Linked DNA regions of Homo sapiens: region 1 is reported to be linked to region 2. The links are microRNA targets in miRTarBase. Many come from high-throughput screens and were not tested one by one. Region 2 holds a microRNA gene; the other region holds the end of a gene's coding sequence.

Region 1 (3,089 bases), not on the chromosome of region 2:
TCCCACAGTTAACACTTGCCCAGTTCCCCACTCTAACTGGGGAAAGGAACTTGAGAGGCTCAGAACTCATCCATTTGATCTGTTAACTGAAAAAGGATTCATTTTGGTAAAACTTGTTCGCCTTTGAGACACTTCAGTGAGTTATTTGGGATTCTTAAAAAATAAAAAAAGGTGGAAGGAAAGGCATCTGAGGGGCTGTGACACACTCCGGCTACCTCTGGCCACACGCCAGCTTGCTTGTGCCTGTTGGACTCACCAGAGGCAGGCAGGCCCTGCGGCTCCTCTAGAGCCTGCAAAGCCTCCTCCTGGCAATTCTGGGCAGGGCCGATGTCTGGGCCACAGCTAGTCCAAGCCTGTCATTGAAGACCCAGTCAAGCTTCTGTCTGAAATTCCACCTTCTTCTGTCCCAAGTGGTTGTGGACACCCCCGGGCGCTGGTACTGAGGACCAGCAGCAGCCGAGGGAGGCAGACAGGCTCAGAGCACGCTTCCATTTATAGGGAACAGAACGCAGGCCTCCGAGTGTCCACGGAGCAATGTGCAAATCGCAGTGATGAGTAGAGTAAAACCTCTACTTCGAGCACAGTATCTCTGGCAAACACAGGGGACTGCAGTCGACAATGCTGCGGAGTACACCCGAGTACACAGTCAGACATTTGTTCGGTAAACAGTAAATGCGTAAGATCAATGACCTTGAGAGGCCTGTCTGTGCTCCAGACGTGTGGTTCACGTGGAGAGAATGGCTGCCACTCAAAGTATCTTCACAGGAAAACAGGGCTTGAGGCACACACACAACAGACAGACACACACGGCTCACCCAAAAAGTCACTGTGTACGGACTTAACTTTGTTCAACATGGATTTTGGTTTTGTGGAATCTAAATGCAGACACTCGTTTACCTCACACCCTTGGATTTGTCTGTTTTTGGACATATATATATATATTTTGTTTGTTTCTTTCTTTCTTCCATAACATCAATGCTTCGTCTGAATATCATCATCGTTCAAGAGTTGGGGGAAGAAAGACTTCATATGCACAGGGCCGGGTGGGGAATGTTTGTTTTGGCTGTTTGCTGCCTCCATTCAGATTTTCCTATCGCAGCTCAGCTGGTGACCTGAAGGCGAGCAACAGGCACAAGGGTCCCCAGGGCCTTCCGGATGGCTGCTTTCACCTCCTGCCTGGGCCACCGAGTCTCTACACAGAAAAATGAGTCACCCGACTCAAAAGGGGTGGGGGTAGAGGCAGGGACAAGGCATGAAAACCACAGATAACCAAGGTGTTTCTTCCAAGTGGTCAGTTTAAAACAAACAACTGCCACCAAAAAAAAAAAAAAAACCCCACAAAAAATATTTATTCAGAATCAAAGATAAAATACTGTGTGAGAGCCAGGCTACAGGGGCCCTTTCTCTGGGGCCATCGCTTCCTCAGTCCGCTGTCTGTTTCCTCATACGGAACAGTGAGACTTGAAGGCCCGCAGGGTGTGTGCTTGCGATGCAGGCTGACACGGGTCACCTGTGAACACAGACCAAAGGGCAGAGAGGCAGAGAGCTGCACCTCTATCCACTGCTGCGGCTTAGGGCCTCCTGCTCACAGAGGTTCCAAGACAGCCGCCACCCCAGCCTTCACACGAGACATCTTCTGGCTCAACAGCAGGCAGGCTCTTTGAAGGCCAACTTGGGAAAGAGCCACAAACGTCATTTTCCAGAAGAGAATTCTTGCCTGCCCACCGGTGAAGTTCTTGTTTTCAGCTGTCTTTTGCTGTTTGTTTTTAGAGAAAAAAACAAACAAACAAAGAAAAGGCAGTATAACCTTTCACACCAGAACCAGCCTGCGGCCAGCCAGAGCCTGCGGGGAAGAGGCCCCTCAAGGACGCATGGGGTGCATAGATCTTGTCACCTGGAATTTGACAGATCAACAAGCCCCTACCAACCTATCATACAACGGCCCAGTAGCTCTCATCCTCCCACAGGATTAGCTCAATGCTGGCTTGGCAGACACTGGCAGCCCAATGACAAGCCCTGGGCCTCTGTGGGTTTCCTTCTTCATCCAGGGCCAAGATGGGCTGCCTCTCCTGGACTGAGATACAGCAACGTTCTCTTAAACTAGAATCAGAGCACAAACCTATTCCATCACCAAGAATCATGTCAGGGCACAGTCCCAGCCTCCTTCCTTGGGGGCTTTTAAAACACATCTCTCTGACCCAAACAGGTAGGTGAGATTTGACTTTAAAGAAAGGAGATGGAGTTAGGGTATGAGGAATGAGTCACAGAACCAACTTAGCCCTCCACAACACTGTGCCCTTGTGGAGGAAGAGGCATCCACACCCCGAACTGTACCTGGAGATGGAGGAAAATGCAGGAGAGGAGAAGGAAAACAAACAAAAAGGAACCAAGTGGCTGTACTCTGAAAGTCTTTGAAAGTCACTTAATGCTTCTCTCGTGGTTCTCCCCTACCCTGGTTGCTTTGCCAAGTTGCTGGGTGCTGGCAGGACCTGCTCTAGCTGGGGGAGCTGCTGCTCTGGGAGTTGGGAGAGTCCTGCTCGTTGATGGTGTTCAGCAGCAGGCATGCGGGCGGCCGTGGCAGGTGCGGGTGCCCAGGCTCTCGAGCCTGCTCCTCAGAGGACTGACAGAGGCCTTCCTCCTCATCACCAGGGGGCCGCACATGGCAGCTGTCGCAGAAGTCCAGGGGCCCATCCAGAGCATCATCGATGAGTGTGTTGAACTCTTTGAGGTCATCGTCATGGTGGCCCCGGTTGCACACACACACTTCAATGCCCGAGTCACCTGTGAAGCGGCGATGTCTCCCAGGCGTCTTCTCTTTGCTGTCGGGTGCGCCGTGTTCAGAGCTGTCATCTTTCAGCAGCTCCTCCCTACATTCTGCATCTTTGTCCAGGAAGGCCCCCGGGTCCAGCTCCCCCAGGCCAGCCACAGAGCCACTGGGCTCCATCCCTGGGGCTTTGGTGGCTGCTCGGTCAACTGGTAGGTCAGAGGGATCAGGGTCAGCGATGCTTGGGGGTCTTGTGCTGCTTCTGCTGGGCTCAGACAAGGGGCTGCTCTGTGCCCCCTGGGATCCCCTGGTGGGATCGATGCCC
Region 2 (3,192 bases):
AACTTTACGCTAATGTAAGTGTTCTGAGCATGTTTAAGGTAGGCCCGGCTAAGCTGTGATGTTCAGTATTAAATTTAAATGCATTTTTAACTTACAGTATTTTCAACTTACGATGTGTTTATCAGGAAGTAACCCCATCATAAGCAGAGGAGCATCTGTATTGCGTAATTTGACTGGCACAGTTTATTAGGTTCTGTTCAGTGTTTTCCGTCAACAAGATGTTTATTGTGTGAGTAAACAAGTTAAGCCCTGTGACAAGCTGAATAAGAATAGTCTCTCCTCAGCAGCTTATAGTAAACAAGGGTAGTAATCCTTACATTAGTGGCTAGACTATCAAACGAAATATATAACATGTAAGAACACTAAAGACAGAATTACTGTGGCATAGAGATAGTTAGAATTGCTTCAGCCTAAGAGATGAATTAGGTAATGCAAGGAGGTGAATATGTTGGCTTGCAATATGAACAAGGCAGAGAGCTGGGAGAGTAAGATGTAAGTTGCTAAGGAGGGATGTGTACTTGAGTTTGGAAACCATAAAGGGAAATCATAGGTAATGCTAGAGTCACTGATCTTAGGGAGCCTTGAATAACGTGATGACTAAGGTAATCTTTATTTGGTGGACTATGGAATTAATTGACAGATTTTAAATAGAAGAATGACATGATCAGAGCTATAATTTATGTTTTAAGAGTGGTCCAAGGCTGCACGCGGTGGCTCATGCCTGTAATCTCAGCACTTTGGGAGGCCAAGCCGAGTGGATTGCTTGAGTTCAGGAGTTCAAGACCAGCCTGGCCAACATGGTGAAACCCCCTCTCTACTAAAAATACAAAAATTAGCCAGGCGTGGTGGTACGCACCTGTAATCCCAGCTGCTCGGGAGGCTGAGGCAGGAGAATCGCTCGAACCCGGGAAGCAGCGGTTACAGTGAGCTGAGATTGTGCCACTACACTCCAGCCTGGGCAACAGAGCAAGACTCCATCTCAAAAAAAAAGAGTGGTCCAAAAGTGGGAATAAACTAGCAATGGAGATGGCAACTTAGAAGATTAAGTGGGCGGGTACCATGGCTCACACCTGTAATCCCAGCACTTTTGGAGGCCAAGGCAGGCAGATCACCTAAGGTCAGGAGTTTGAGACCAGCCTGACCAACATGGAGAAAGCCCATCTCTACTAAAAATACAAAATTAGCTGGGCGTGGTGGTGCATGCCTGTAATCCCAGCTACTGGGGAGGCTGAGGCAGGAGAATCACTTGAACCAGGGAGGTGGAGGTTGTGGTGAGCCGAGATCGCACTGTTGCACTCCAGCCTGGGCAACAAGAATGAAACTTCATCTCAAAAAAAAAAAAAAAAAGATTAACTAGTAGTACAGGTAAGGAATAATGAGAGCTGGGGGTGAGGACTGGGGTGGTAAAGTCTTTTTAGTCTAATAATATTCAAGATCTACTTTGCTCAGAAGAGACAAGGGAAAACTGGGAAATTGATTTTGTACCACAGGTCACACATTTGCTTTCATCATACAAGGTTATGCTTTTTCTCTCAAATGAGTTGTACATATTATGTAGCATCTATTTACTTCTAAAAAATTGAGGAATGGAGGGCCGGATGCGGTGGCTCATGCCTGTAATCCCAGCACTTTGGGAGGCCGAGGCAGACAGATCACTTGAGGTCCAGAGTTTGAGACCAGCCTGGCCAACATGGCAAAACGCCATCTCTACTAAAAATACAAAAAATTAGCCGGGCATGGTGGCAGGCGCCTGTGATCCCAACTACTCAGGAGGCTGAGGCAGGACAGTTGCTTGAACCCGGGGGACGGAGGTTGCAGTGAGCCGAGATCACGCCATCGCACTCCATCCTGGGTGACAGAGTGAGACTCCATCTCAAAAAAAAAAAATTGAGGAATGAATGTGGGAAAGAGAAAGAACAAGTAAAAGGAATTTTCATTTTCCAGCCCCTAATTGTTCTGTCTTTCTCCCAGTGTCTCCTTTCCTCTTGGGCCGGGCACTTTGGGCTGCCAGTCGGTTCACTGTTGCTATGTCCCCTGAACTGATCCAGCAGTTCCTACAGGCAACAGTTAGTGGTCTTCACGAGACACAGCCCCCATCAGTTCGAATTTCTGCAGTGAGAGCCATCTGGGGGTGAGTATGCTACCCTAGCGTGATAATTAAGGGAAAGTTGCTCAGGTTAGATATAACAAATCACAGTTTTCCAGTGTATTATGTTGCTTGGAAATCCCTGCTAATGATATCCTTCAGGGTGAATGTTGGAAGGACAGGGAAAGAAACCATGCTAGAGACATGGCTTTTGTGAGTCCAGAAGATGTCCTGTTCCTTTCTGCTCCTCTTCCTCTTTAAATTCGCTCCAGTTCTGGAATCATCTAGGCAACTCCCTTTCTCTCAATGGTGAAGAACCTGAGGTTTGGAGAGAAAAATGTTTTGCACAGGGTTGCACAATTGATGAATGATAGAAGCAGGATTAGAGTCCACATCATTTTGTTGGTTGATTATATTAGAAACCAAATCTGGGATAATGTGACCTAGAAACACTGCTTATTTTTTCCCAGTTTTACCTATCTTTTTTAAGGCTAGTGTTACTAATGGATCAAAAGTCATTTATTTATATTCCTACGCAGACTAGAAGGACCATTGTTGTTTTAAGGAATATCTTAGGCTCAAACTTAAACATCTCAACTGAATCCTATAACTACCAACACAAAATTTATTTTCCATGTGCCTGCCCTGTCTTATCTTTTGAGGCAGAGGAGTATCTTTTGAGATGCCGTGTGTTATATGTCATTAGAAAGCATTCAAGAACTGCCTGTTTTAATTAAATGGTTAATGTTATGACCATAAACACCGTCCCATCTTTTTCTGCTTCAATCTAGGTGAAGCAGATCTTTGGCTCTAAAATAATTAGAAGTATCATCTTAAGAGGCAAACTAAGTATAGCTTTTTCAGAAAGCTCTAACACCATTTTAAATGTCTGAGAAGAGAGAGCCCTAAGCTGCTTAAGGCATGAATGTTATTTTAAGGGTTTTTCTGAGTTTGTACCTGTGGTCACTGCCTGTTTAGCTTCTGACCTTAGTGAAACTTGATTTCATTGGAGAATTATCCACTTTGTGTTGTGATTTTATGGAAATGTTTGCAGCTGCAAGCTGTGAGAGGAGTTTGGTATGAATGTGAAAGTACTTTGGGTAAAA

The links. The annotated mature microRNA hsa-miR-6739-5p reads UGGGAAAGAGAAAGAACAAGUA and lies in region 2 at 1,902-1,923, shown strand. An mRNA with a match to its seed (bases 2 to 7 or 8) in the 3' UTR can be bound and repressed. Matches are read on the target gene's strand: a 7mer-m8 pairs with bases 2 to 8, a 7mer-A1 pairs with bases 2 to 7 and ends in A, and an 8mer does both.
Region 1: the mRNA of WBP1L is a reported target of hsa-miR-6739-5p. Seed matches in the 3' UTR shown: 8mer at 1,674-1,681 and 7mer-m8 at 40-46.

The regions. Positions count from the first base shown.
Region 1 is chr10:102,812,737-102,815,825 of GRCh38, reverse strand. WBP1L (WW domain binding protein 1 like) reads right to left here. Exons shown (of 4, transcript NM_001083913.2): 4 at 1-3,089. The coding sequence ends at 2,495. Among named protein-coding and RNA genes, the nearest start is that of CYP17A1-AS1, 18 kb to the left of the region's middle. RefSeq lists an enhancer at 1-406.
Region 2 is chr1:201,861,477-201,864,668 of GRCh38, forward strand. MIR6739 (microRNA 6739) reads left to right here and starts at 1,897; the gene lies at 1,897-1,971. It overlaps IPO9 (importin 9), which reads left to right. Exons shown (of 24, transcript NM_018085.5): 14 at 1,972-2,131.